Regions from separate parts of the Homo sapiens genome. Here all the other regions are linked to region 6. Evidence: fine-mapped expression QTL. A gene starts in region 6. Each other region holds a variant in brackets. All regions are shown on one strand. Distances are between the middles of the regions. Region 1 overlaps ELAPOR1 (endosome-lysosome associated apoptosis and autophagy regulator 1). Region 2 overlaps SARS1 (seryl-tRNA synthetase 1). Region 3 overlaps SORT1 (sortilin 1). Region 4 overlaps ELAPOR1 (endosome-lysosome associated apoptosis and autophagy regulator 1). Region 5 holds the start of PSRC1 (proline and serine rich coiled-coil 1). Region 6 holds the start of ELAPOR1 (endosome-lysosome associated apoptosis and autophagy regulator 1). Region 7 overlaps ELAPOR1 (endosome-lysosome associated apoptosis and autophagy regulator 1).

Region 1 (4,076 bases), 82 kb after region 6:
GTCCCTCTCCCCCTCAGATCCACTCTCTGTGCTACAACGATTGCACCTTCTCACGCAACACTCCGACCAGGACTTTCAACTACAACTTCTCCGCTTTGGCAAACACTGTCACTCTTGCTGGAGGGCCAAGCTTCACTTCCAAAGGGCTGAAATACTTCCATCACTTTACCCTCAGTCTCTGTGGAAACCAGGTAAGGTATACCAGTTGACAGGGTGAAAATTGAATGGGGGAGGCCCATGGATCAGAAGCCAGAGACAGACACAGGAGAAAACCAGAAATCCTTCAGGTAGCAGGGGGTTGAGGAGCTTCAAAGGTTTTTACATATTATTCTCCCTGAGGACTTTTTCCCCTAAAATTAAATAATCAGGATTATAAACACTTAAGAAAATAAAGATATTTAAAATAATGTGTTCTTGCCGGGTGCCTGGTGCGGTGGCTCACGCCTGTAATCCCAGCACTTTGGGAGGCCGAGACGGGCGGATCACCTGAGGTGGGGAGTTCGAGACCAGCCTGACCAATATGGAGAAACCCCGTCTCTACTAAAAATACAAAAAAATTAGCTGGGCGTGGTGGTGCATGCCTGTAATCCCAGCTACTCGAGAGGCTGAGGCAGGAGAATCGCTTGAACCTGAGAGGTGGAGGTTGCAGTGAGCTGAGATTGCGCCATTGCACTCCAGCCTGGGCAAAAAGGTGAAACTTCATCTCAGAAAAATAATAAAAAATCAATAAAATAAAATAAAATAAGGTGTTCTTTTACCTGACCTTTATTTCCTCAAAATGAGTCTATTTAAAAATATGCAGGAGGAAGGCTAGGCGCGGTGGCTCACGCCTGTAAACCCAGCACTTTGGGAGGCCTAGGTGGGTGGATCATGAGGTCAGGAGATCGAGACCATTCTGGCTAACACGGTGAAACCCTGTCTCTACTAAAAATACAAAAAAATTAGCCGGGCGTGGTGGCGGGCACCTGTAGTCCCAGCTACTCAGGAGGCTGAGGCAGGACAATGGCATAAACCTGGCAGGCGGAGCTTGCAGTGAGCGGAGATCACGCCACTACACTCCAGCCTGGGCGACAGAGTGAGACTCCGTCTCAAAAAAAAAAAAAAACAAAAAAGCAAAAAACAAAACAAACAAAAAAAACCCCAGAAATATGCAGAAGGAAAGGTTTTTTTCCCTTGCTTGAAAAAGCAGTCTTCAGCAATCACTGCATTTGTCGCTTGTTTTCTAGAGGCTGGATAAAATCAACTGTTTCTAGTTCATCCACACGTCTCTTTGCTGACAGTATGAAAGAAAGTAACATGAAATGCTTTATAAGGAAAGATTGTCACCATCAGCCATTTCATGCTGCTGCAAATATTTCAGATCCAAAATTCAAAGGCAGAAATGCAAAGGTTAATCCCACCACTGCACTTGATTAAATTGCAACAAGCCACAATTAGCAGTTGGAAAGTTCATTTCAAATGTTACAAAAGAGGCTGGGCATGGTGGCTCACGCCTGTAATCCCAGCAATTTGGAGGCCAAGGCAGGCAGATCACCTGAGGTCTGGAGTTCGAGACCAGCCTGG[T/C]CAACATGGTGAAACCCTGTTTCTACTAAAAATACAAAAATTAGCCCGGCATGGTGGCACACATCTGTAATCCCAGCTACTCGGGAGGCTGAGGCAGGAGAATTACTTGAACCCAGGGGGCGGAGATTGCAGTGAGCCAAGATCATGCCACTGCACTCCAGCCTGGACAACACAGCAAGACTCCATCTAAAAAAAAAAGTGACAATATAAAGAGCATCTTGAGCATCTAGTCTTTGACTCTGTTGGTGGTAAGGCCTTTACATCATAGAGCTCTGACCCATCTTCTGCAGCATGCAAAGAAGTCGATGGGTGTTTATAAAGAGAACATGTCAAGAAATAAACTAATCTATGAAAGATTAGAGATAGGTGTCTCTATCTTGTTTTCAGAAGTCTTCGAAGAAGTTAAAATGAAGCCTCAGAAGTAACAGGTCATGATCACTTAGGAAATAAGACTGATTAAAGCAGGCTTCATGTAGCAAAAGTGTCATTCAGTGAATTATGGAGAGCAATGAAGGTGGGGAATTTGGGGAAATGGTGTATTTTTTTATCTACTCCTTTCCTGTTTAGAAATGCTTATGATGTACTGCCACACGATAGATCCTTAGTTCAAAGACAAAAGAACTCTATTTTATTGTAATGTAAAGGTTTTCTTCAGTTTTCAAGCTCATCTACTTCCTACAATCTAGAAAAAAAAAAAAAGGCTGAGACACCAGATTTAGCACTTTTTTTTTTTTTGAGGTGGAGTCTCACTCTTTTGCCAGGCTAGAGTGCAGTGGCACGATCTCTGCTCACTGCAACCTCCGCCTCCCAGGTTGAAGCGATTCTCCTGCCTCAGCCTCCCGAGTAGCTGGGACTACAGGCATGCGCCAGCACGTCCAGCTAATTTTTGTGTTTTTAGTAAAGACGGGGTTTCACCACGTTGGCCAGGATGGTCTCAATCTCTTGACCTCATGATCCACCTGCCTCGGCCTTCCGAAGTGCTGGGATTACAGGTGTGAGTCACTGCACCCAGCCAGCACCATTTATAATAAAATTTATAACATTGAAAATGTTGACTGGGCACAGTGGCTCACCCCTGTAATCCCAACACTCTGGGAGACTGAGGCAGGAAGATTGCTTGAGCCCAGGAGTTCAAGACCAGCCTGAACAACACAGAGAGGCCCTATCTTTACGAAAAAAAAAAAAAAAAATTAACCTGCGGTTCCAGCTACTTAGGAGGCTGAGGCAGGAGGATCACTTGAGCCCAGGAGTTCAAGGCTTTAGTGAGCTATGATTGCACCATTGCACTCCAGCCCGGGCAATAGATCAAGACTCTGTCTCAAAAAGACAAAACAAAACAAAAAAATCAAATCTGTCTCGTCATTAGACCTGGGATGAATCATTCCCCTACAACATACCATTGAAACGCTGAAAATTTAGATGTAAAAAAGCCTTCCCTATTCCCTTCTGGGAATTCCTCTGTGACCACTCACTTCTTCCTACTTCTTCCTCCCCACTCCCCAACCAGGGTAGGAAAATGTCTGTGTGCACCGACAATGTCACTGACCTCCGGATTCCTGAGGGTGAGTCAGGGTTCTCCAAATCTATCACAGCCTACGTCTGCCAGGCAGTCATCATCCCCCCAGAGGTGACAGGCTACAAGGCCGGGGTTTCCTCACAGCCTGTCAGCCTTGCTGATCGACTTATTGGTGAGTAACTCCGCTGCCTCAGCCTTGTTTGAGAGTGTGTGTGTGTGTGTGTGTGTGTGTATGTGTAAGAGAGTGTGAGGTTACCAGTCTGGGAGGTAAAAGGCCCCACATGAGGGGCCCAACCTCTTGACCTGTGTTTTCTATTCCACTCTGTGTGCAAAGTGCTCCCAGGGACTCTGACAAACCCTTGTTTCACCCTTTCATAAGCCACTCAGGGATGTGATGAGATGAAGTGAGGTTGGATGTTGACAGGTATTGGAAGAATTGAAGTGGTTGCCAGCTAATGCTACTAGTGAGAACTAATTAGGAGCTCTAATTTGGCAGGGGTGACAACAGATATGACTCTGGATGGAATCACCTCCCCAGCTGAACTTTTCCACCTGGAGTCCTTGGGAATACCGGACGTGATCTTCTTTTATAGGTGAAGATGAGAGGCTAGGCTAATGCAAGTGAAACCTAGGACTCCTCCATAATTTCTGCTGCATCCCTCCCTCTCTAGCCACCTACTGCTTATCAAGCCAGAACATGTCTGAGGTCTAGCAGATCTGCCCAGTCATGATAGCTAAGGGCTGGGAGTTCCTGATCCCAGCTTCCTGGATATTACTGGAGCAGATCTGCCCTAGAGGCAAGGAGAAATATTGGATGATCTGCAGTGGACTTCCCTTCCAGCCTAAGCAGGCTCCAGTGTATGCTAGCCATGACTTTCCTAAACCAGGGCATTTCCCCCTTGACTACATATTGTTGATCCCCACCCTTTCCACGTATAAACCAAGGCCTGTGCACTCCCTGTGTGCCAGGCTAAAGCCCAAGTCCTGACTTCCCCAG
Region 2 (4,000 bases), 110 kb after region 6:
TGAGCCGAGATTGCACCATTACACTCCAGCCTAGGCAACAAGAGCAAGATGCTGTCTCAAAAAATAAAAATAAAAAGCTGTAAGATTTTATAACTTCATGAGGCAGATCCTTCAGCTCTGCCGGCATTTGGGCCTTAACCTGAAATCAGTACTAAGAAGTCAAGATCAGGAGAAAGGAGTATCTTAATTATGGGCATTTCTTTGGTATAGTCTTGGATTCTTTATTCCTAGGTAGATTTCGGGCAGACAACTTGAACAAGCTGAAGAACCTATGCAGCAAGACAATCGGAGAGAAAATGAAGGTAAGAGAACTGAATAACAAACAGCCATGAGAACTTGAGCGGAGATATTTGATCTTGCTCTTAGCTAATGTTCACAGAAGTTCTAACTCAGTGTTTAAGTCTACAAGATGTTCAATTTCTTACCAAAGGGGAAAATATTATTTTAAAAAGATAGGGAGGCAGGGAACTTGGAGGCATTTTCATATACTTTACCACAAGTCCATCTTCTGTGTTCAGGTAAGATTCTTTGTTGTCTAGCTGTTTGTTGTCTATTCTGTTCTTATATTAGAAATATAAATTCCACCAGTCATCTTTTTTATGGCAGATTTCAGATTTGTCGTCTCAGCGTAGTTATGCTCCATAATGAAAACTACAGATTCAGAGTTCAAATCTTGCTACGTTATGTGTCTTTTAGGCAAGTTAATGCCTCAGCCTCAGTTTTCTCATTTATAAAATGACAATACTAACACTCACCTACAGAATGGAATTGTTAGAACTTTTTTTTTTTAATTTAAACGCCAAGCAATGGTTATGGATAGAACTAAATTTCTTTTAAATGTAGAAAATTTGGCACAGTGTCTAGAACATGTAGTTGTTCAGCAATTGTGAGTTATAATGAATGGCAAGTAATGTTACTGGCCTTCATCCAAAAAAAAAATCCTTCCTATGCCTGAAAAATACTATGTTTCAGCTCAGCTTTTGCTTTGGTATCCAGAATAGTTCATGTTTTTAACCTTCCTTCAAAAATACCTGTTTAGCCCCTTAATCATATTACATTACATATTATAGCTGGGTACAGTAGCTCACGCCTATAATCCCAGCACTTTGGGAGCCAAAGTGGGCAAATTGCTTGAGCTCAGGAGTTCAAGACTAGTCTGCACAACATGGTGAAACCCCATCTCTACAAAAATAAAATGAAACAAAAAAATTAGCCAGACGTGGCGGCCTGTGCCTGTAGTTCCAGCTACTCAGGAGGCTGAGGTGGGAGGATCACTTGAGGCCAGGAGTCAAAAGTTGCAGTGAGCCAAGATTGCGCTACTGAGCTCCATCCAGCCTGGGTTTCCAGTGAAACCCTGTCTCCAAAATAAATAAATTAATTAATTAAATGCACTTTACAATCTAGATAACTTTTACATTGTAAACCTCAAAACTAAACAACAACAACAAAAAATTATAGAACTTTGGAACTGCACCAGTAAAGAGCATAAAAAGATGACCTCGGGATTCTAGCACCTTACACTTAACTTCATGGCAGTCGGCATCTTTCTCTTTGACAATATTTTGTTACACTTTCAGCGTGTAACACTTTTAGCTGTGGAAAGTGATATTGATAATCATCCAGTTTCTTTCTGTGGGACTTAGTCATTCGCATACTAGAGGCCCCATAATTATGTTAATTCCCATGCATACTCCTCCCTGGGTGTTCTTTGGGACCTATGTACAGTCAGTGCCAGCTGGGTATTTTTTGAAGCAAGAAGATGGGATTGTGAGTGTTGTCATTCACAATAACATTCTTAGATCTGATTTTGTTGCTAGCCATGCAGGGAGTGTTCACTCCCACTGCCATTGAAATGGTAATGATAGTGCTTTAATTTGTAGAGCACTCGAAAGCATTCAGATACTTTCACAGACATCTTATTTTGGTTTTGATCCTTACTGCAGAGCTGGAGTGCAGATAGTACATTTGTCAGCCCTATTTAATGGGTAAGGGAATCGGCTTAGGAAATTAAAGAGCTTGCTTAAAATCATATTCTAACTTAGTTGCAGAGTCAAACCTTGAGCTCAGAACTTGAATTTGCTGCCCTGAGGGATTATCAAATAGCAAGGGAGCCTGGTAACTATCTTGCAAACATATCACCCTGCCTATGATGCCATTGCAAAAATCTTGAGATTTAGTCCATTTTTTCCCTACCTCTGTAGTCTGTTCTTATCAAGACTCATTCTGATAGTTTCAGATTTTTCCAACTTTTTTTCTTTTTTTCTGAGACAAAGCCTCATTTTATTGCCCAGGCTGGAGCGCAGTGGCACAATCATGGCTCACTGCAGCCTCAACCTCCTGGGCTCAAGCAGCCCTCCTGCCTCAGCCTCCCTAGTAGCATGCCACCACACTCGGCTAATTTTTTTTTTTTTTTTTTT[TG/T]TTGAGATGGAGTCTCCCTGTGTTGCTACTGCACCTGGCCAGATTTTTCCAACTTTTTAAGATGATTTTGCTCTGAGTCACTGAAGGGTGTGAGTGGAGTTATGGTTAGAATTTTGATTGTATGAGAATGTGTAATGAACCTAAAGGATTTCCATGCTTTACATTTAGGAGATTTAGTCCTTTTGTTCTTTCTTTTTTTTTTTTTGACACAGTGTCTTGCTTTGTTGCCCAGGCTAGAGCGCAGTGGCGTGATCATAGCTCACTGCAGCCTCCAACTCCTTGGCTCAAGCAGTCCTCCCACCTCAGCCTCTCAAGTAACTAGGACTATAGACACATGTCACTGTGCCTGGCTAATTTTTTAAAAAGTCACCCAGGCTGGAGTGCAGTGGCACAAGCATAGCTCACCACAGCCTCTAATACCTGGGCTCAAGCAGTCCCCCCGCCTCAGCCTCCCAAGTAGCTGAGACTACAGGTGTACTCCACTATGCCTGGCTAATTTAAAAAAAAAAAAAAATATATATATATATATATATACACACACACACACACACACACACACACACATATATATATATTTATTTATTTATTTATTTATTTATATTTAGATATGGGGTCTCACTCTGCTGCCCAGGCTGGTCTTGAACTCCTGGGCTAAAGTGATCTGCCCACCTCAGCCTACCATGTAGCTGGGATTACAGTTGCAAGCCACTGTACCTGGCTATACTTTGTTTTATTTATACTCACAAAGCGGATGCTAAATATTCTTATGCAAGTTTTGTTGAAGTCTCATGTATCTTATTATAATGACCTTTGACTAACTTTCTTTAACTCTTTTTTTTTTTTTTTTTTGAGACAGAGTCTTACTCTGTCACCCAGGCTGGAGTGCAGTGGTGTGATCTCAGCTCACTGCAACCTCTGCCCCCAAGTTCAAGCAAGTCTCCTGCTTCAGCCTCCCGAGTAGTTGGGATTACAGGTGTCTGCTACCGCGCCTGCCTAATTTTTGTATTTTTAGTAGAGACGGGGTTTCACCATCTTGGTCAGGCTGATCTTGAACTCCTGACCTCGTGATCCACCCACCTCAGCCTCCCAAAGTGCTGGGATTACAGGCATGAGCCACCGTGCCCTGCCAACTCTTTTTAATTTAAGAAGAATTTAACTCTTTAAGTGATCTTTTTAAATTCACCTGGTTTTGTGCAAGGATTACAAATGATGATTTAGCAGAATTATCATACGGAAGGATGAGAAGAGAAACTAGAGAGAACGAAATCCAACCCTGGTTACACCCCTGCCATTTTGTCAAATTACATTGATTGTTCTAAACTGAGTTCCAGATCCTGTGACTTTTTGTTTGTTTGTTTTCCTTGGCTGTCTGATATTTCATCATTCCATCCATCTTTCACCCTTAGCCTCAATGCTGGGATTGTTGTTAGCAGGTAGATAAGAATCTACACTCGGGGCCGGGTGCAGTGGCTCACGCCTATAATCCCAGCACTTTGGGAGGCCAAGGTGGGGGATCACTTAAGGCCAGGAGTTTGAGATCACCCTATCCAACAGAGTGAAACCCTATCTCTATTAAAAATAC
Region 3 (4,076 bases), 280 kb after region 6:
ATCAGCTTGTTCTTCAAGCCCCATTAATCCTCAAATCCACCTGCATACAAATCACTGAGACCACATAGTGGGAAGAACAAGTTTTCACCAAGTTTTTAAAAATAGAAGTAAAAGATGCAATAAAAACACTGATGACAAAAGGAGAGAAAGGGAACTGAAACTTGTAGAAATCTACAAATGCAGTATCTAGTTCATAATATTGTCAGAGCCATTGCCACAGTTTTGTTGTTTCTAGAAAAGCTGTATTTTAAATTACATGTCAAATGTGATGGCTTTGTCTGCCTTAATATTAGCTCCTAATTATATAAAATATCTGAGCCTCATTTCTGCAGCCTCAAAACATAGTTCACTTTCTGTAAAAAAAATTGAGGGGTAGGATTAGGTAGGAAGGAGGGAGAAGAACAAACGTTACTCCCCCGTCCTGACCATTACAACTTGGTGCTAAGCACTGCCCAGCATGTGATGGTCACACAAGGGTAACAGGCCAACTGGGACAAAGTTGGGGAACGCAGACTCTGCAGTCACCCACTGAGAACCCAATGCCTGTTGACGAGAGTTGACTGGAAACTGGCAGAGTGCAGAAGAAACTGCTAATAGTATCTGTGACCCTGACATGAAAGATCTGATCAAAACAGCAGGATAGAAAGCCTATTATTGTTGTTAATAATCACAAAAAGAAAATAGCCATTAGAAATTGAACAGAACATAAGCCTTCTTCCAATTATTTCCACAAGCAGACATGAGACTCAGATTTCTAATTAAAAATCACTGTGCACAGAGCCAAACATTTGAGTCAGCAGAGAACTTACCTAATTGTTAACACTGCATTCCCTTGGAGCCATCTGTCATACCTGGCTAGCTTTCTACTCTCATCCCAACCAAACTTCAGATGAAGACTAACCTTTCCCCAGATAAATTACACTTCATCAAATCTGCTGATACTTCTTACTGAAATATCCAATGCATAAGTCATTTTAACATCCCTCTAGGGGCTAAAGGTCTGACTATACATTGCATGAGAGAAGACTCTTCATGAAGGTTTCGCTCACTCTGCTCAACCAGGACCAAGAAGGAGATCCTACAGAGTTCCTACTCCTTGATCCAAAGCTGAATGGAAGAAACAGAACTCAAGAGACTATTAAATAAGCTAGACGGCTGGGGGTGCTAGGGAAGGTAGGATGAAGAGAGGCCAAGTATTGGAAGAAATGAGGCAGTTAGGAAGTTCCGGGGCATTAAAGGACTGACCTTCAGACTTCCGGGTGTTACAAAGGTCTGGCGATTCACAACAACAGGCCGAGGTCTTCAGCGGCAGCTCCCTGAAGCCTCTGACAGGCACACTCAGTCCTGTCAGCTTGGACTCAACCCTGCCAGAGCCAGCAAACAAACACACGCATTCTTCCCAGAGCTGACACCCCATACAACACGGCCTCTCTACAGGGCCTGTTTATTTAAGGAACCAGATGCTTTAAAGTTGGAGTAGAAGTTGGGAAGTTATGTTTACAGAAGTAGTTAGTGACAGGAGCAGAGGGAGGACAGAAAATAAGCAAGAGTTCCTGGCTTTATTCATCATAAGTTTAAAAAGTTTTAAGGAAATTGTCAAATGGTCTGTACACAGGAATGAGAAGTAAGGAAATTATGTCAGCCACCACCACAACTCTGGCCAAGGCATTTCATCTGTTCCTTTAAGACAGTTTCATGCCTACCCTCAAAGGGGTGCTTACAGCAGAAATGTTTTGAAGCAATCCAACTTAGTAACCAACAATAAAGTCTTCTAGGCCTGCTCAATTTCACGCATGTACAAAGGTTATACATGTCATGAATACTCCAAGCAGCTGAAGGAAAGAATCAGTTAAAAATGTGGCATGAAAACAGTTTTGAGTTCCAGGCAAAAGGAAGATTATTGAGTCTAAGAAGAGAGCATTTATAAATGATAGCTAATTGCTGAGTGCTAATTATGTGCCAGACATTCTTCTAATGAGTTATTACATATGTATAGATTATACAACACAATGTGATATGTTGTAAT[A/G]CATACTATAACTCATTACAAATACAATATTACATATGCATATATTATGTAATACAAATATATATTTATACAATAATATACATATACGTATATATTATGTATATATAATTTAACACACACTCATTTAATTCTCACAACCACCCTACAAATTAAGTGCTCTTATCTTCACTTTACAGATTAGGAACTGAGACACAGAAAACTTAAGTAACTCACCCAGGATCACACAGTGACATGGCCAGGGTTCAAATGCAGGCAGTCCAGATAAGGCAGTGCTATACCACCTTACCATGGTAAGTCAAACCCTTAGAACAAAATTAGGGAGCATAATTTTTGGAAAGTTATAACTATTTATCTTTCTCCTTCGTTTTCTTGTCATCCCTTTTGTTTGTTTTTTTAGTAATAGCCAGTATTTTTTATTTCCACTTTCCCATGAGTCTATTATAGCTAACTTGTAATACTGTAACTAGAAAGGAAAATGTTTTCCTCTCCTGCCTCAACTCCTAAAATAAAGCACTTAATCATTAGGACTTCTATGTGAAAAAATATATGCTGTGTGTAATAAACCCAATGCACTTTAAATATATTTTAAATTAATAGATTGAAAAGAAATGATATGAGAAAAAAAACCTTAGAGAGAAAAAGGGAGGCTTGGGCAAAGAGAAAAACCTGCTGGATTTCATGGACAGAGAAGCCTGAGTGGTCATCAGGACACCGGTCTCCTTAAACCGTAATATAAACGCACTATTATGCTTTAGCTTTACCGTGCTTTCTTGAGAAGACAGGTTAAATGCTAATATATCCTCATAAGCCACAGACACAGGTCTAGTAGTTTGCTATAACCTTCTGAGGCTTTTCATTCTCCAGTCTGAATGATCTTTTCTTTGTATCTTGGCACCCCAGCATCTAGCACAGATCTAGGCATTTGGAGGGCATTCACATACATTGATGATGTGAATTAATGTGGCTTGAAATGAAACAGGACCAAGTTAAAAGAAATAAGAGAACCATGAACTTTTGCTTTTTCTTGGGACTCGAATCCTGTCATGTTATGTAGGAAAAATGATTCTACATGTACCTTCCTTCCCCAGTTGTACAAAGTACAATATCTCTGATAAAAAGTTGTTCTGTCATGCTGATGCTTTTATTTCACACTGTTTTATAAACGGTCCAAAAATACTAGATCTCTTCAATACAGTTCAGGATTTTTTATGACTTCTAAAACCAAATAAATAAACAGAAGAACAGGCTACTACATAACAATTCTTGGTTAAGAAGTACTACTTAACCATTTTTAAGGTAAATGATATTAAACAAAGGCTCCACTTTTTTTTTTTTTAACCAGATACAGAAAGGATGAGATCTCTGAAGAAGAGACCACGGATGACTAACAAACGCAAAAACTTTTTTTTTTTTTTTTTTTTTTTTTTTTTTGAGATAGAGTCTCACTCTGTCACCCAGGCTGGAGTACAACGGTGCGATCTCGGCTCGCTGCAACCTCTGCCTCCTGGGTTCAAGTGATCGTCATGCCTCAGCCTCCAGAATAACTGGAATTACAGGCGCATGCCACCGCGTCTGGCTAACTTTTGTATTTTTAGTAGAGACAGGGTTTCACCATGTTGGCCAGGCTAGTCTTGAACTTCTGACCTCAAGTGATCCACCTGCCTTGGCCTCCCACATTGATAAGATTACAGGCATGAGCCACCGTGCCCAGCCAAAATAGCTATTTTAAATAAGGTCACTGAAAAAAAGACTGGGAGAGAAAAACTAAAAAAAAATTATTGCAAACAGCTAAATGAAAGAAATAGAAGAAAATTTCTTTACATGTGGACTTCAAAGAATGAGTGGTTTTAGGTCTACTCTTCCACAGATTTGGCCTTAGAACCCCTGAGCCAGTTTTTTCAACCTCTTTCTTTGGAATCAATATATTACAAATGACACATCAATTCAAACTAACCAGGAAGACTCTGACTCAAGGAATAAATCCAGGCAGGGCATAGTGGCTCACGCCTCTAATCTCAGCACTGTGGCAGGCTAAGGTGGGTGGAGCACT
Region 4 (4,076 bases), 71 kb after region 6:
CCCAGCTACTTGGAAGGCTGAGGCAGGAGAATGGCGTGAACCCGGGAGGCGGAGCTTGCAGTGAGCCGAGATCGTGCCACTGCACTCCAGCCTGGGCAACAGAGCAAGACTCCATCTCAAAAAAAAAAAAAAAAAAAATCTCATTCCACTACACCATACTGCTTGCCAGGTAATATAAAGAGAGAGAAGTTCTTACCATTATTCAGTGCTTATCTGCAGGTGACACAGCAGTCATATTCGAAGTAGTGGTGGCAGTAGTAACAGTATTGTAATGTGCACCTCATAAAGCAGTTGTTTTTATTCTGGAGGAAGTAAATTCCCTAGAAAACTTTCAAAAAGTTTTTATTTGTATGAATTACGCATATTTTTCTAGGTAGAGAGAAACATCTCTTTTTTTCAAATTTTCAAAAGAGTTTTTAAAATCAAAAAAAGTTAAACCCACTGCTTTAAAGAGAGAGTCAAGCACAATGGCTCATGCCTGTAATCCCAGCACTTTGGGTGGGTGGCTGAGGTGGGAGGATTGCCTGAAGCCAGGAGCTCAAGACCAGCTTGGGCAACATAGCGAGACTCTGTCTCTACCAAAAAAAAAAAAAAAAAAAACAAAAAAAAGAGAGAGAGAGAGAAAAGAAAACAAACCCTATGATGAAATAATGAAAAAAATAAAATTAAAAAATGAATTCATAGAAGTAGTTCTCACTATCCAGAGGTTCACAGGGTTAAAGCAGAGCTAACATTGAAAGGAGGAGAACATGCAGAGAGCAGAAGAAAACTGATAGTTCACGTTTTTCTTCTTTCTTTCTTTTCCTTCCTTCCTTCCTTCCTTCCTTCCTTCCTTCCTTCCTTCCTTCCTTCCTTCCTTCCATCCTTCCCTCCTTCCTTCCTTCCTTCCTAACAGAGTCTCTCTCCATTGCCCAGGCTAGAATGCAATGGCATGATCATGGCTCTCTGCAGCCTCAACCTCCTGGACTCAAGTGATTCTCCTGCCTCAACATCAAGTAGCTGGGACTATAGGCCTGCACCACCACGCCCGGCTAATTTTTGTATTTTTTGTAGAGACAGGGTTTGCTATGTTGCCCAGGCTGGTCTTGAACTCCTGGGCTCAAGAGATCCTAAAGTGCTGGGATTACAGGCATGAACCACCATGCCCAGCAGTTAACATTTTTCATTAGGTATAAATCAAGAGTTAAAGATAGTGTTGGGCTGGTGCGGGAGGCGGGAGGATCGCTTGAGCCCAGGAGTTCCAGGCTGCAGTGAGTTAAGATTGTACCACTGCAGTCCAGCCTCAGCAACAGAACAAGACTCTGTCTCTAAAAAATAACAATAATAAAATAATAATAAAGAGGCCGGGCACGGTGGCTCACCCCTGTAATTCCAGCGCTTTGGGAGGCCGAGGAGGGCAGATCACCTGAAGTCAGGAGTTCGAGACCAGCCTGACCAACATGGAGAAACTCCGTCTCTACTAAAAATACAAAATTAGCCAGGCATGGTGACTCATGCCTGTAATTCCAGCTACTCAAGAAGCTGAGGCAGGAGAATCACTTGAACCTGGGAGGCGGAGGTTGCAGTGAGCCAAGATCGTGCCACTGCACTCCAGCCTGGGCAACAAGAGTGAAACTCCATCTCAATAATAATAATAATAAAGATAGTGTTGGGATGCTTGGGTTGAGGCAAGTGGGAAGAACCTTATGTGTTAGGTGGAGTCCAAGGAAATTACAAACCTGGTTTGTGTAGAATGATTGCATGAAGAAAAGGAAATTTCCAAGGTGGAAGGCCTTCATTCTAGGCATATATTAGAACATTCATAGAAAGGCTTGGAATGAGTATGAAAGCAAAATCATGTTTTACTTCAACACTTCAGGAGTAGAAAAACCACACCCAGAGTCAAGACACTAAGGCACCTGGAAGATGGTGAACTCTCTGAACCTCCCCAGGTTTCAGGGAACTTAGGTTGGCAGTGGTTAACCTGCAAGAAGCTGTTTCCGTCTACCCTCCTTGCTGGTCCTTTGGCCAGGCCACTTCTCCCTCCCTTGCCCCATGGGGCGGGGGACGGGAAGCGGCAAACAGTGGTTTCTCATCAGCACCTGGAACAGGTGCAAAGGGAAGCTTGAGCAGGGTTGGGGAACTGGAAATGACACTATTGAGACAAGGGGAAGGGTGA[G/A]TGTGCAGGATTTTCTACTTCCGGCAATATTTGTGTGGCAATGCACCCAGGGACTTGGGAGTCACAGGGCCATGAAGAGGCCAGGAGCTCAGCTTTCTTATGTAACTCCAAATATTTCTTCTTGCTTTGGCAATTTAGAGAAAGGATCTTCTTCCTGTAACGTGCGCCCAGCTTGCACAGACAAAGATTATTTCTACACACACACGGCCTGCGATGCCAACGGAGAGGTGGGTAGTACAGTCTTGGAGCCCCTTAGCCCCAGATGGACTGTCTCCCACTCCCTGAGGTTTGCCACCATTTGGAACTTCAGCAGTCAATGACATTGGCACTAGTTAAAACCCCACAGACCTTTGAGGTGACCCTAGGGCTAGGTGGGGTGGGGGGCAAAACGAGACCTCTTCATTCATTTTCCGGTCAGAAACTGTTTTTGCAGCGTTTGTTTCACTGTTTATGCACATATGTTCTGTTTCAAAAACCCACTTCATTCTCTCTTGCTTGGTTTCTTCTATTTGCCGAGCCACTCCGGCAGAGCCTGCCTGTCCGTACACAATGTCCTCCCGGGGCTCTTCAGGCTCACCCCCTCGGCACTGTTTTGTGGGCTGGCACGGGGAATGGATTCCTGCCTATGGTCTGACTTGTTCCGTTTCTGCTGCTTCTCTTTCCTCCAGGCTTTCTGCTTCAGAAAAGAACTTTCCCTCCTAGTCTACACTGTCACTGAGTCAACAAGCATTTTTTGAGGCTGACTGATATGTCAGGCCTGGCACTATAGGCTGGGGAGTCAGAGACGACTGAAACAAGCTCCTGCCCCCAGGGAGCTCACAGTCCTGTATGAGAGGCTGGAGAGAGGAGAAAAACGGGCCCAGTCAAGGCAACCAGAGGGATGTGCAGGGAACTGGGGGAGCCCAGAAGAGAAGCGACCAGGACTTGGGGTGGGGGCAGCAGAGAAAGCCTCTCAGAGGAGGCCATTTGTTCAACAGTCAACAAATATTTATCGAGGAGCGACTCTGTGCCAGGCACGGTGCTAGGTGCTAGGCATGCATCACTTAACAAAACTGAGGGAACATCTAGCCCTTATGGAGCTTAACTCTTGTTGGGGAGGGAGTGGAGAGAGAGATAATAGACAACAAATGGGTATATAATATAGCAAATGGTAGTAAGTGGTAGGAAGGAAAAAAAAAAACCAGGATTAGGAGAGAGAGAATGAAGGAGGGTGGTGCCACTATTTTAGAAGGGTAGGGATGTCCTCTCAGGAGGTGACATTTGAGCAGAGACCTGAAGGAGATGAGGGAGGAGCCGTGGAGCTTTCCAGGCAGCAGACACAGCAGGAGAGGAGGCGGCAGCTGGGCCAGGTGGGTGGAGAAACAGTGTAAGTGAGCAGGGAAGGGCTTGAGGTGCACGGAGAAGGATCTGGCTGAGCTGTCTGTATCCCTAAGCTAGAGATTCTCAAGAGGATAGAACTAGGAGTTGGGCATTCTGCACTCAGCACTAAGCATGATGCTTGGCTCTTAGGGAGCATAAACATTTGCTGGCTGGGCGGCTGACTGAATTCTCCCTTTCCTAACTAAGCATGGGTTAAAGTCTGGTCCTTAACAATGAATATTTTGCACAGTCATCTCTTACCAACACCACCTCCCCCACGTATTTGGGGCATCATCCCCTTCTCCAGCAGCCAAGAGAGAATGGCTGTGTCTTGTCAGTTGCACCTTAGACTCAGTTCTGTGGTGTCTGGTATTCTGTATGACCTTGTGAACATTTATTTTCATTTTCTTGGTCTCAGCCAACTCACTAATAAAAGGCAGACAATTAATCCTGCTGCTCTTCTCCCTCCTGTTCATAACATGTGACTGAATGTGGCTGTCTTTCCTCCCTTCTGCCCCATTCTCTTCCCTCCCTGGGCTCACGCCAAGGCCTTCTGGGT
Region 5 (4,076 bases), 170 kb after region 6:
TAATCTTCTTTCAACCCAGAGAGTTTAAGTCTTCTCCAGCTCAATCCTAATCCACCCCATTTCCCATGGTCTCTACTCCTGGGAGACCAGCCCTGGTGGCATCTCTTCCTCCTGTCCCTGGGCCAGAATCTGCTGGAGTCAGGGTCTGCTGGGTAGAGGCGAGTCCAGGTACTGACTGTAGTGGTTTGCTACTGAAGTCTTGCTTGCTGTCCTGATCTCTTTACCTAAAGAAATAGAAGGAATAACTGCTTTAAAATGCCCTTCTTCCTCAAGCCCATTTGTCACCCAGCAGAATTCAAGCTCCTCAGGGTGGGAAGAAATGGGATCCCCCTTCCCCTGCCCCAGGCTCCCCTCCTCTCTCCATCTTTCCATACAAAATTCAGGGCTGATGTGCATAACAGCTTGGAATCCCAGATGATGGCGGGGTAGGGAGACAGGATGGGCAAGGGAGGACCAGACTGACCTGGTAGGTCCTGGGACTGCCACTTTCCTGGGGGGCTGCAGATTGCTGCGAGTGGCACCCATGACAGGAAGATTTAGTCGCTGGGAAACAGGAACTTCATGGGGGTTAACAAAAGAAATGAGTTAGCAGCAAGTTTAACTGACCTCGAAAAGAAATACTGGATGAAGGGAGCGAGTGTGGGATTAGTACTCTCCCCCTGACCATGAGGTATTTGAAAACTAAGACTCAGACTCTGTCCAGCCCCATATCCTCTCTGTAACTCAGTCTCCCCATCTTCCAATTGAATTGCAATAAGGATGGCAAAAGTGGTCACTGTTGACAGCTCTGGGAGGGTGAGGACACGCTGGGCAAGGGCGGGCATTCTTCCTCCTGACCTCTTACCCTTGTGTCCACTTTCCCGCACTCTGTGTCCTGCAGTGCTTGGTCTTGGAAGCCCTTTTCGAGTTGACAGAGAATCCGGAGGTAGGGCACCTCTGCCAGGTGGCACACTCCGGCTGGTGAGTGGCATTCGGCTGGCAGGCCTGGGGATGGCCGAGGGAATGGGCAGTTGACTGGAAGATTTAGCAGCTGCTCCCTGCGGCCGGGGCAGGCGTTGAGAGTTGCTGGTAGAAGGCTGTGGGGCCAGGACGGATCTGATGGGGGTGGGTGGGCCTGGTGGAGAGGGGTGGAGAAATTTCAGGGTCAATCCCACAAACTCCCCACTCCCACTCACCCGCAACTTGGCTGCTCTGGTCTCCTCACTGGCTGCTGCTCTCCCACTGGGCCCGGCTCTCCCCCGGACTGGGGGAGTCGATCGGGTAAGAGGAGAAGATGCTGGGCTTTTGGATGCAGGGAACAGATTGCAAGTGGGTGACTCCTGAAACACAAAGAGAGAGAGAAAAAAGACTAGAGTGGAAAAAATATCTGTTCTGTGGCTTAAGGAATTAAGAAATAGAGGTGGAGAGTTGTCTACATCCCAGTAAGGAAGGGTAGAAGTTAGCTGCTAACATCACCACATCACCATCACCATCACTATTGCCAATACCATTTATTGAGTTTATCATAGACATATACTCAGACACTGTGGTAAGAGTTTTGGTTCTCTTTTTTCATGGTTCTCATTTAATTCCAACAATTCTAGATGTAGAAATGCTATCCCTGTTTTACCAATAAGGAAACCACTCCCTGCATCATGGCACACACCATGTCTGGGGCACACCTCCAACTCAACTCTCTCAACTCACCCTCTTCATGTTGGAGGGCCTCTTTCCAGATGTAGCCCGGAGAGCCCTGACTGACCCCTTCCTATCATTACTCCGGAGTCGAGGCGTCAGGCTGCTTGGGGAGGGGGTGCTCCGCGTCAAAGAGTTCACAGTGGGCAGCAGGTCTCGGACAGGACTATCCTTCAGCACAAAGGTCTCCCGCCGAGGACTGGGCTTCACTCGGCGAGGCCCCAGGCCCTCGCCTGCGCTCTCCCGATCCTGCAGGGCACACTGCTCCAGCTGAGCGGCCAGCCGGTTGGCCTCATCGAGGATCTCCTCCAGCTTCTCTGGACTGAGGGGGCCTAGGCTGAGCCTCACACCCTGGGGGGCAGGTGCCACTGCATTTGGGTCACTTCGGTGGGAGAGGCCCCGTCGAAGTGGTTTCTCTGGAGTCACCAACACTGTTATGTCTTCCTCCTCA[C/T]GGCTGAGACAGGAAACAAACCAGGCATCATGCCCATGCAAAAGGGAACAGGAGATTATGCAAGGGAGACTGCATAAAAGCCCCACAACAGAGCCAGGGACATGACCCTAGGCCCCGATGCCCATGCTGGCTGTGAGATGTGGCCTCTGGGCGATGAGATACCTGGTTCTATGGGGCCTAATAGGCCTTTAGCATTTACGGACATCAGAAATGATGCCAGGATGGAGATGCAGCAAATCCACTTATCCTTCTTCTTAACACCCTGAAATCTAACTCCAGCTTCTCCCTTCTCTCCCCGCTACCAATAGTGTCATAGAGGCCCGAGTCAGCCAGCCGCCCAGCAGCCCCAAGTGCGCCAAACCTTGCTAAGTTACCAACCCAAGCCAATAATTCAGCAGTAAGGGATTCGAGACAAAGAGGTACTGTTAGAGGAAAATAAGTGGGATAAAGAGGCTGGTACCTGTCAGATGGTGACAGCCCCCCAAAGTCCAAGGTCTCATCCACAATAAACCTTACATCTGAAGGGGAAAGAAGAATGAAAGCCAGTCATGGGTCCCTGATGCAGCTCTCCATCGCTGGGTCTCACTCCTCCCTTTCATTCTTCCCTCCCTCCTTTCCTTACCTTCCTCCAAATCCTCCATGTCCAGCCAGCAGGAGCGAGAGTCCAGTTAGATCTGAGCTGGAGAGAAACCATACCTTTCCTCAGGTATCCATTCTGCCCAAGGCTCGCAGCTAGATTCAGGGTGCAAGCCAGGGTCGGGGGTCATGCTGGAGGCAAAGCAAGCGCCCAGGAGTGGCACCTCCCGCACAGCTACTCCTGCTACCTCCGGGAACGATACGGAGGGCTCCCCCAACTGCCCAGATTGCCCTGGAGCCGCCCTGCATCCTGGCCTCTCCTCACTGGGGGCGGCCTGCACGCCCCATCTTCCTCCCCGCCACTATCCTCAGGGTTCTGCACTCCCCAAGCCACCTTTCCACTCCCCTGGCATCACACGCGAAGCACACCTCCAGCCCACCCTGTGTCCACTTCCCGCGCCGCCTTATCTTCCACGCAACAGGCTTTCTCCCGCAACCTAGTCCCGGGAATCAGCTCCGAGGGGGCGGGGCTCCTTTCGAATCTCTCAGGCCCCACCTACTCAAGCCACACGCGCACCGTGATTGGTGAATCCTCAGGGGGAGGGGCTGAGGAGCTGCCGGCCGGAAGTCAGCCGGTGGGGGCTGGGGGAGAACCGTTCCCAGAAGACTGCATCCCGGTGGCGGAGCCGAGGGTTGAGGCTGCGAGTGCGCGTGCTCGCGTGCGCGGAGACTCTCTTTCCCGTAGGCAGATGGGAGCAGAGCGCGGCTGGCCAGGAGGGAAGAAACGGACCCACGAGTATGGAACTCGCGCCCCGCCCCGCTCCCTCTGCTGGGCCGCCGAGCACCCAGTCTCCAGAACGGTTGTGCTGCCTAACGTGGCCGCTAACCGACGCTCTACGGGAGGAAATTCGTTTTCTTGGGCGCACTCAATATGCAGGCGCCGCATTGGCCGAGGTTCCTCAGTTGTGGGTTTTTTCCAAGTTAAGGGAGCACCTAAACACTTATATTGTAGGTATATTGAGGTTCTCTTAGAAGTACATCCTCCATCGCCTCTTCAAGAACCTGAGGCAGCTGAGGTGCAAAGAAAGCAACGGGCTTTTCACGCAGGCAGGCTTAGGTTCAAATGCAACCCAAGTTTAACTGACCTCAGAACCCAAGTTTCGGTTTAGAGGCGGCTGCCTTGAGTATATTTGCCCTCTTTTCACCTCTCTTCGCTTATCTGTGAAAGGAGGATGTTGGTCCTCGCAGTTACGGTGTTACGAGGATAATTATGAAGGCGTTTTCTACCGTGTGCCCTTAGGGGATTTAGAGGGGGTGTTTGTAAGTAGCCCCCTCTGAACTAAAAGCAGTATTTGTAAAATGCTTAAACCAACTT
Region 6 (4,076 bases):
TATTAGACCACAATCACCACTTAATTCATCTTATTGTGCACCACTTCATATATCCCAATCACTTCTACCAGAAAAAAGATCATCTAAGTTCCGAAATCAGTGTCCACCATCATGCTAAACACACACATAACAAACATATTGTGGTGTTAACCAGAAGACAGAGACAGTGTGAACACAGATGTGTAAAGCATGACCTCTGGTGGCTTTCAGAGGATTCTCTCCCACTCCATATCTCATTTCTCTTCAGAGAACAGTCTTCCAAATAGGGAAATGGGTAGCTTGAAGGAACCTGGGCACTGCCATAACTTATACTCACAATTGATTTGAGCTGCCAGAGCCCCTTGTTCCTCTAGACTAGAACTCTACTTTCCTCTGCTCAAAAACGCCTCTGAAACGTTAGCCGACTTGAATATGGAGATAGGGAGGCAGGCAGAAAACAGACTTCCCTGGTACCCGACTGAGTGTCTTCACCAGAGTCCTTTATGTTACCATCTCTGCTCATCACACAGACAGAAAGAAGACTACCGGCGACCCTACTGGGAATCTGCGCAAGAAACCACAGTACCTTGGAAGCCCGCAGTTCTCCTAAGTAGGAATCATCGTTATCTAATGTAGGCTGCTGGAAAGGGTCCCGGGTGGGAGGCATGGCTAAATGCCTAACTCTTTTAAGAGGGATGGGAGGCCCGCTCAGCCGCAGCACAGCCTCACTGGCATAAGATCCCGGGTCCCAATTGTTTGGAGCGCTGGTTTCGGTTGCCAGGCAACTGCCCAGCCATCTATGACAGAGGAATTCCCTCAGAGGAGGGCGCCACCTGGCGGCTGACCACGGGAGGCCCCTGGGGAGGAAGCTCCGGGGACTGCAGAGGGAACGTTCCGCTGAGCGGGCCCGAGACTTGGAATTGCACTCCTGAGCCTCGGCGGAAAAGTGCTGGCTGCTCACCATCAGGACTTCTGCAAAAGACTTCAGTTGAGGAAAGAAGTCCTGAAAGATGACCCAGAAATTTCCTTCTCCCTCGCACCTAACAAAAGGCTTTCAAAGCCATGAGAGAATGAGGATGTCAAGAGACCAAAGAGGGCCGGGCGCGGTGGTTCACGCCTGTAATCTCAGCACTTTGGGAAGCGGAGGCGGGCGGATCGCTTAAGCCCAAGAGTTCGAGACCAGTCTGGGCAACATGGCGAAACCCCGTCTCTACAAAAAGTAGGAAAAAAATTAGCTGGGCTTGGTGGCACGCGCCCGTAGTCCCAGCTACTCGGGAGGCTAATCCAGGAGAATCTCTTGAACCCGGAAGGCGGAGGTTGCAGTTAGCCGAGATCGCGCCACTGCACTCCAGTGTGGGCGAGAGAGTGAGACCCTGTCTCAGAGAGAGAGAGAGAGAGAGAGAAAGAGAGAGAGAGAGAGAGAGAGAGAGAGAGAGAGAGAGAGAGAGAGAGAGAGGCCCACGTGCGGCGCTTGGGAAATTGCGGCTAAGGCAAACTCCTCGCTTAAACTCGGATCAACTACAGTGTCAGGGCTTCTCTTCTAGCCGGTTGTAAAAGCACGGATGGATTTGGCGGGATGTAAGATCTCCAGGAGTGGCCTTCGTAGGAGGGAACACGTACTGGGGCCTCTTCCAGGCGACGACGTCTGGAGGGTGATCTCTCCATCTTCTTTCTCTCGGTTCACACGCCACGTGTGCAACATCGGAGATGCTCATAAAATAACCCCTGGCCCGAAAGGGCAGTAGAAAACGGAAATTTGTTGGCTGGCTTGGAGGATGCTTCCACTGTGTTCTTCACACGAGCCCCGGGCCTGCCTGTTGGGCCGGTTGCGCACCCCGGGCGCGCGCTCTCCCGCGCCCACGCCGCGCGCACCAGCGGCGGCGGCTGCCATGGCGACCCGCAGGTGAGCTGCAGAGGCGCGCGTGGTCCCTGCCCCACCCGCGCGGAGCCAGAGAGGAGGCGGTTGTCAAGGCGACGTGGGTAGGAGGAGAGGACAGAGGGAGGAGGAAGGATGGGCGGTGTTGGCGTAGCCGCAGGGAGGTGACTGAAGCGAGCCTGGCCTCTTGCATCCTCCGCCTGTGTACCTCCCTCCCCTTTTTTTCCGCCTTCTGCCAGCAGAAGCAGCAGCCGCAGCACCTGAGCCGCTACTGCCGCTCACTCAGGACAACGCTATGGCTGAGCCTGGGCACAGCCACCATCTCTCCGCCAGAGTCAGGGGAAGAACTGAGAGGCGCATACCCCGGCTGTGGCGGCTGCTGCTCTGGGCTGGGACCGCCTTCCAGGTGACCCAGGGAACGGGACCGGAGCTTCATGCCTGCAAAGAGGTACTGCCGCCCCCCTACCCGATCCCGCTTTGGTCACAAAAGTCTTGGATCCAGGCGGAGACCTTGGGGACCCAGGCGCAGAGAGTTTCAGACGCCACGGAGTTTAGATTTCTTTGGGGATGAGGCGTGGGGGGAGGGAAGAGGAGCCAGTCTGGCGTCATGAGGAGGCCAGCACATTGGAGGACTCACGGATAGATCATCCTCACAGATTGGGATGCTGAGCTCAGCGAGAAAGGTCCCAGCCCCAAGAAGGGGAGCTACCTGGGTACCTGAACTCAGAATGAGGGAGGCAGACGAGTTATTTTCCAGTTAGGATGAACTCACCTTAAAAGTGGTTGACAAGAAAAGATTATGCACAGAGAAGCAAAATAGGAAGAGGAAAGAAGAGTAGTGGGAGAGGAAAGGAGTTAGGAAGGCCAGAAAAAAGTATCAGAGCGAAGTGGTTTTATCATGGCTACACAAAACGGAGTGTGAAGGTGGGAGATGTGCGAGAGGGATGATAGGATTCCAGCTCTCTAGTTCCTTGTTTATTAAACATCGGTTAGTGCAGACTGTAAAATGTGTCTCCTCCTTATAGCTTGGCCTCCCCGCAGCGTACTATGTTTAGTGTACCTGACAGTACACGACTCACCTTTTTGCAGATTTTGAGTTCTTCAATATCTTGTGTTCTGCCAACCTCTAGTCTCCTTCTCTGACTTAACATATGTCAAAGTCTTTTTCAAGGTATTTCCAATATGTTGGAAGCAGAATTCAGACAATAGGTAGTCAATCTCTTATAACCAAAAATAGCTTTTGAAAAGTCATCTTGGAGGAACATAAAAGGGCACTAGCAGCAACAAAACTAAGTCATTTCTATGTTATTGAAATAACAATATTTGGTTGTGCTCTGAGCAACTTTTTTAGAAACCATATGGCAGAGGCAACAATAAGATATTTACAAGAACTACGTTGGGGAAGGCAAAATAAAAGTTCTGTTATTTCTGTGAAATGTGAAGGACTTCATAAAAAGTCAAGCATCTAGCTCTGTAAATTTAATCCCAAATATCAAGCTTGACTAAGGTTTTGAGAGGTTAGAATATATATATAGATGTATTTTCTTTACTTTAAAAAATATATGTTTTAAAATAGAAATGAGGTTTCGATATACTGCCCCGGCCAGTCTCTAACTCCTGGGCTCAAGCGACTTCCCACCTCGGCCTCCCAAAGTGCTGGGATTATAAGAATGAGCCACTGCGCCCAGCCCAGAATATTTTTTATAAATTGTTAGTGTGAACTGATTGGCAACAACTCCATCCCATATGGAGATAAATTCTTATAAAGATGTTCTGTGTCTACAGCACAGCAGGTCATAAAGAAGTCAGGTGTGGGGGGGAGGATTTTTGTGTGAATAAAGATACTTGATTTTGAAGATTCATGAATATGACATAAGTGACCCCAGTGAGTGGGACTTTTGATAACCTTTATTAGCTCCAATGACAACCTGCCCTGGGCCATCTACATTTCCACCTAGCCGCATTATGACCTGTTTTAGAGATCGCAGGGAACAGTATGATCTTATCAGTGACTGGCTCACTGGCCTTGATGGCCTGTGGTCTAACCAACCAAAATAATGAGACCAAGAAAGCCCACTTGCCTAAGAATCAAACAAGGGAGTTTCCTGAGTGGAAGGTAAGAATCATACAGTTTAACTACCAATTCTTGTTGAGATCTTTGTCAACAATGGAAAATATGAGACATTTCAGAAATTAAGCACTTCTATTATCTTGGTTTGGA
Region 7 (4,076 bases), 48 kb after region 6:
GCCATCATCACGCCACCGCACTCCAGCCTGGGTGACAGAGCAAGAGACTGTCTAAAAAAAAAAAAAAGAAAAGAAACTACATCTTTACCATATTGCAACAAGTCTGAAATGCCACTGCTTCTAAGACACCATTTTTTTAATGTGTCATCAAGAAAGAAAAAGCTCTCTATCCCTTAAAACATAACACAATTCTTCCTTACTGTGTCAATTTTAAGACACGTCTTGATTTCATAGATGTTAGATGTGGAAAAAGCGTGCATCTTGGAATAGATGAAATGCAGTGTGTTTACCTATCCCCAAAAATAAAGCTTATTCCTTTTGATCCTGACGCATTATTAGATTAGCAAACTTCAAAACTTGTATTTTTTGTCTTAGCTCCTTGACGTTATACATGTTATGCAATCAGGCTATCACGTGGGTTAAAGGGGGACATTAATTCTATTTTTCTTATGCATACAGTAATACAAAATACCTCTGGGCTTGAATATAGTTTTAGGTAAGTGTAGATTGTAAAATACTTGTCAGAGCCAAAATCATCACTAATTCCATGGTCTGTTGTTTATTACCAGATTTAAAGGAGGAAGAAACGCTTAAGGGCATTTGGCACATCAATTGTGTTTTCTTTGTTCTGAGTGGAACTGTTTGTTGTTGTTGTTTTACTTAATGCTTGATTTGGTTGTTTTGTTGTTATTCCATTTATTTTTAGCTCAGGTAAAACAATTAAACTATGAGTTTCCCATTGCACAGACAAATTAGGGATGAACAGGCTCAAGTGAGAGCACATCACCTGCCTCGGCCAAATATATTTTCATAAAATGCAATTGGGAATTCATAGTCTTTCTGAGTGGAAAGGAGCATAAGAAACACAGGGAAATAGGGCCAGGCGTGGTGGCTCATGCCTGTAATCCCAGCATTTTGGGAGGCCAAGGCAGGTGGATCACAAAGTCAGGAGTTTGAGACCAGCATGGCTAACATGGTGAAACCCCGTCTCTACTAAAAATACAAAAATTAGCCTGGCGTGGTGGCACTCGCCTGTAGTCCCAGCTACTCGGGAGGCTGAGGCAGGAGAATCGCTTGAACCCAGGAGGCGGAGGTTACGGTGAGCCAAGATCATCCCACTGCACTCCAGCCTGGGCGACAGAGCGAGACTCCGTCTCAAAAAAAAAAAAAAAAAAAAAAAAGAAACACAGGGAAATAGAAATACATACCACTTCTGTGAGGAGCCTTTGTAAATTTTTTGTGGACTAAGGCTTCCATTTAGAACATCCTTCCATTTAGAATGTCCTCGTTCATAAATTCTACACTTTGGAATAAGAAAAATTCCACCTATTTCTAGCCTGTTCCTTAGTTACCTTTCCCACGTTCCTCTGCTCCATAAGGACACTACTTAAACATAACAACAAAGAGAGTCACACACAAAAATGATTTCTAGGGACTAGACCATGGCTGGGTGGAAGGGAATGATCCAAATCATTGTAGTTCTTGTACTCGGTTCATAATCATCAGCTCCCTGCCCGGGGTCCCAGGGCCCATTTCTGAGAGGATGAGCATCAGTAGCCATGGTGCTGGGAAGTGGGTGGGAAGCTGTTAATGTTTGATCACTGCTAATGCACATTTCGCCCACTGTTCTCTCCCCTGCAGTCTGAGTACCACTATGAGTACACGGCGTGTGACAGCACGGGTTCCAGGTGGAGGGTCGCCGTGCCGCATACCCCGGGCCTGTGCACCAGCCTGCCTGACCCCATCAAGGGCACCGAGTGCTGTAAGCAGCTATCCTGCTCAGGGCCTCCCTGTCACTCAGCTTTGGTCTCTCCCCCAAGTCTCCTGCCATCCAATCTGGGCCCTTCCTGGCAGAGCAGCTGCATTAAGGAATCAGATCTTTTCCCCAATTAGTCCCCACATCCCAGACCCTTATGAGATTTGGTGCAGAAGTATTTCATGAATGCAAACTGGATATCTGAATTTGCTTTCATTTTTTAAAGGAATTTAAATCCCATCAGTGGATACAGCATAAGCAATGCCAGCTGTGTGCACTCAGATATTCTTTTCTGTTTGCATACATTTTCATTTTTGCCTTGTATGTCTCTCCAATCTACACTCACTC[A/T]CCAGCCACAATCAGTCATTAGGCAAGATTGAGATTTGCTTTCATTCTTAAAAAGGAAGTCAGAGAGGCTAAGTTTCTGCAGAGACGTCCTTTAAAATGCTCCAGGCATCACTTCAGGAGACAAGAATCTTCTTGACTGTGGGTCTGATTGTGCAATAGGAAAGGCAGTGGCTTGCCGCAGCCCCAGCACCCGCCTCTGTGACTCTGCAGTCACAACTTTTCTACAATTGGCAGCTGTTTCCCCTGCATTATTCTTTTAGGAATGCAAAGGGAATAACAAGAAAAACCAGGCACTAGATTTAAGGAATTATCTGAAGAGTTGGAAAGGAGTTTGAAGATATTTAAATTCTAAAATCAGCTTAGTACAGTGCCTGGTTGAGTAAGTGAGCAAATAAATACTTGTTAAATTAATGACTGGATATTGCTGAGACCTGAGCAGAACTGAGGTGTGACTAGTGGAAACAAATGAGCCATCTTCATTGAACTCTGCTGACTTCAGTGAGTCCCACTATGTGTTAGCACCATGATGTGCACATGCAGTGTGAACTGCAAAGACAAATAAGGCACACTCTCTGCTTTCAGAAGCTTAGGGTGGTGGAAAGTGCAGACATTCATTCATTCACTCATTGTTTCAGAAACATTCATGAAGCTCCCAGTCTGTGCCAGTCACTGAGCCAGCCATCCCCAGAGGAGCGCAGAGCCTAGTGGGTGGCAGACATATATGATATGAGAAAGAATGAGAGTTACGAATATTTAGGGATCAGGCATAGCTGGGAGGGCCACTTGAGCAAAAGTTTAGACGTGGATGAAGAGTGACACATTTGAGGAAGAGCTTGTGGTCCAGGGTAGAGGCAACACAGAGAAGGTGATGGATGGAGTTGAGGTGAAAAAAGATTTGTAGTGGGAGGTCAAGCTGGGAAGTTAGGCTGCAGGGAAATCGTGGAAAACTTTGAATGCCAGGCCAAGAGCATAATTCTAGAACCAAAAGGGAGTGCCTGTTTATTTTTAAAATAAGGAGAATAATAGTACATACGTGTTTTACTTTTTATTTTTTTAAAGACAAGGTCTCACTCTGTTTCCTAGGCTGAAGTACAGAGGTGCAATCATAGCTCTGTAGCCTCGACCTCCTGGGCTCAAGTAATTTTCCCACCTCAGCCTTTTGAGTAGCTAGGATTACAGGCACACGCGACCACTCCCAGCTAATTTAAACATTTTTTTTTTTGGTAGTGACAGGGTCTCACTGTGTTGCCCAGGTTGGCCTCAAACTCCTGGGCTCAAGTGATCCTCCTGCCTTGGTCTCTCAAAGTGTTGGGTTTACAGGTATGAGCCACTGTGCCTGATCACATCTGTTTTAGAAAGGTACCTCTGACCACAGAATGAGCAAAAATAAGAATAGGGAACTAGTTAGGAGGATATTGCAATGATTGAGTTAACAGGTCATGAGAATTCCACCTAGCATGGTGGCAGTACAACCAGAAAGGCAGAGGCCAGAGGCTCAAGGGAGAAATTCAAGGCTGAAGGGCCATGTGTCATTCAGAGGGGTCAGCACAAGAGACCTTGGCATCTTCTTCACCAGAGAGCTCTCAGAATGGTCAGGGCACCTCTCCAAAGGAAACGAGTGCCAGGAACAAGCCCAAAGTCCCACAGCAAGGCAGAGCATCCGTGGCCCTAGATCTATTTTTTTTATAACAGCTTTATTGGTATATAATTTATATGCCATGAAATTCATTCCTTTAAGGATAAAATTCAGTGGTTTTTAGAATATTCACAGCAACCATCATCACTCTCATTTCACATTTTAATCATCCTAAAAAGAAACCTCATATTATTAGCAATCTCTCCCCAGGCCCCTCCCCACAGCCCCTGGCAACCACAAATCTACTTTCTGTCTCTATGGCTTCACCTCTTTTGGCCGTTCCATACAAATAGAATGACACATAGCAAGGAATATCACTGCTGAAAAAAAAATTTT

Evidence for each region.
Region 1: its variant is fine-mapped to the expression of ELAPOR1 in whole blood (INTERVAL, PIP 0.97).
Region 2: its variant is fine-mapped to the expression of ELAPOR1 in whole blood (INTERVAL, PIP above 0.99).
Region 3: its variant is fine-mapped to the expression of ELAPOR1 in whole blood (INTERVAL, PIP above 0.99).
Region 4: its variant is fine-mapped to the expression of ELAPOR1 in whole blood (TOPMed, PIP above 0.99).
Region 5: its variant is fine-mapped to the expression of ELAPOR1 in whole blood (INTERVAL, PIP above 0.99).
Region 7: its variant is fine-mapped to the expression of ELAPOR1 in whole blood (TOPMed, PIP above 0.99).

What each region holds. Positions count from the first base shown.
Region 1 is chr1:109,194,404-109,198,479 of GRCh38, forward strand. It overlaps ELAPOR1 (endosome-lysosome associated apoptosis and autophagy regulator 1), which reads left to right. Exons shown (of 22, transcript NM_020775.5): 15 at 18-191; 16 at 3,071-3,251; 17 at 3,576-3,672. Among named protein-coding and RNA genes, the nearest start is that of SARS1, 17 kb to the right of the region's middle. RefSeq lists an enhancer at 2,934-4,076. The variant T/C (reference allele first, on the strand shown) is at 1,564.
Region 2 is chr1:109,223,747-109,227,746 of GRCh38, forward strand. It overlaps SARS1 (seryl-tRNA synthetase 1), which reads left to right. Exons shown (of 11, transcript NM_006513.4): 2 at 232-302. Among named protein-coding and RNA genes, the nearest start is that of SARS1, 12 kb to the left of the region's middle. RefSeq lists enhancers at 1,628-2,312, 2,313-2,997. The variant TG/T (reference allele first, on the strand shown) is at 2,418.
Region 3 is chr1:109,391,782-109,395,857 of GRCh38, forward strand. All of the region lies in intron 1 of SORT1 (sortilin 1), which reads right to left. Among named protein-coding and RNA genes, the nearest start is that of SORT1, 4.1 kb to the right of the region's middle. The variant A/G (reference allele first, on the strand shown) is at 2,027.
Region 4 is chr1:109,182,749-109,186,824 of GRCh38, forward strand. ELAPOR1 (endosome-lysosome associated apoptosis and autophagy regulator 1) reads left to right here. Exons shown (of 22, transcript NM_020775.5): 8 at 2,297-2,385. Among named protein-coding and RNA genes, the nearest start is that of SARS1, 29 kb to the right of the region's middle. The variant G/A (reference allele first, on the strand shown) is at 2,159.
Region 5 is chr1:109,279,933-109,284,008 of GRCh38, forward strand. PSRC1 (proline and serine rich coiled-coil 1) reads right to left here and starts at 3,213. Exons shown (of 8, transcript NM_001032291.3): 1 at 3,131-3,213; 2 at 2,748-2,804; 3 at 2,586-2,643; 4 at 1,687-2,128; 5 at 1,205-1,319; 6 at 845-1,114; 7 at 464-557; 8 at 1-224. The coding sequence starts at 2,766. The coding sequence ends at 221. RefSeq lists enhancers at 3,582-4,076, 3,675-3,724. The variant C/T (reference allele first, on the strand shown) is at 2,126.
Region 6 is chr1:109,112,034-109,116,109 of GRCh38, forward strand. ELAPOR1 (endosome-lysosome associated apoptosis and autophagy regulator 1) reads left to right here and starts at 2,082. Exons shown (of 22, transcript NM_020775.5): 1 at 2,082-2,303. The coding sequence starts at 2,151. It overlaps CFAP276 (cilia and flagella associated protein 276), which reads right to left and starts at 714. Exons shown (of 5, transcript NM_001245025.3): 1 at 566-714. The coding sequence starts at 646. RefSeq lists a silencer at 1,834-1,903.
Region 7 is chr1:109,160,253-109,164,328 of GRCh38, forward strand. It overlaps ELAPOR1 (endosome-lysosome associated apoptosis and autophagy regulator 1), which reads left to right. Exons shown (of 22, transcript NM_020775.5): 2 at 1,642-1,762. Among named protein-coding and RNA genes, the nearest start is that of ELAPOR1, 48 kb to the left of the region's middle. The variant A/T (reference allele first, on the strand shown) is at 2,105.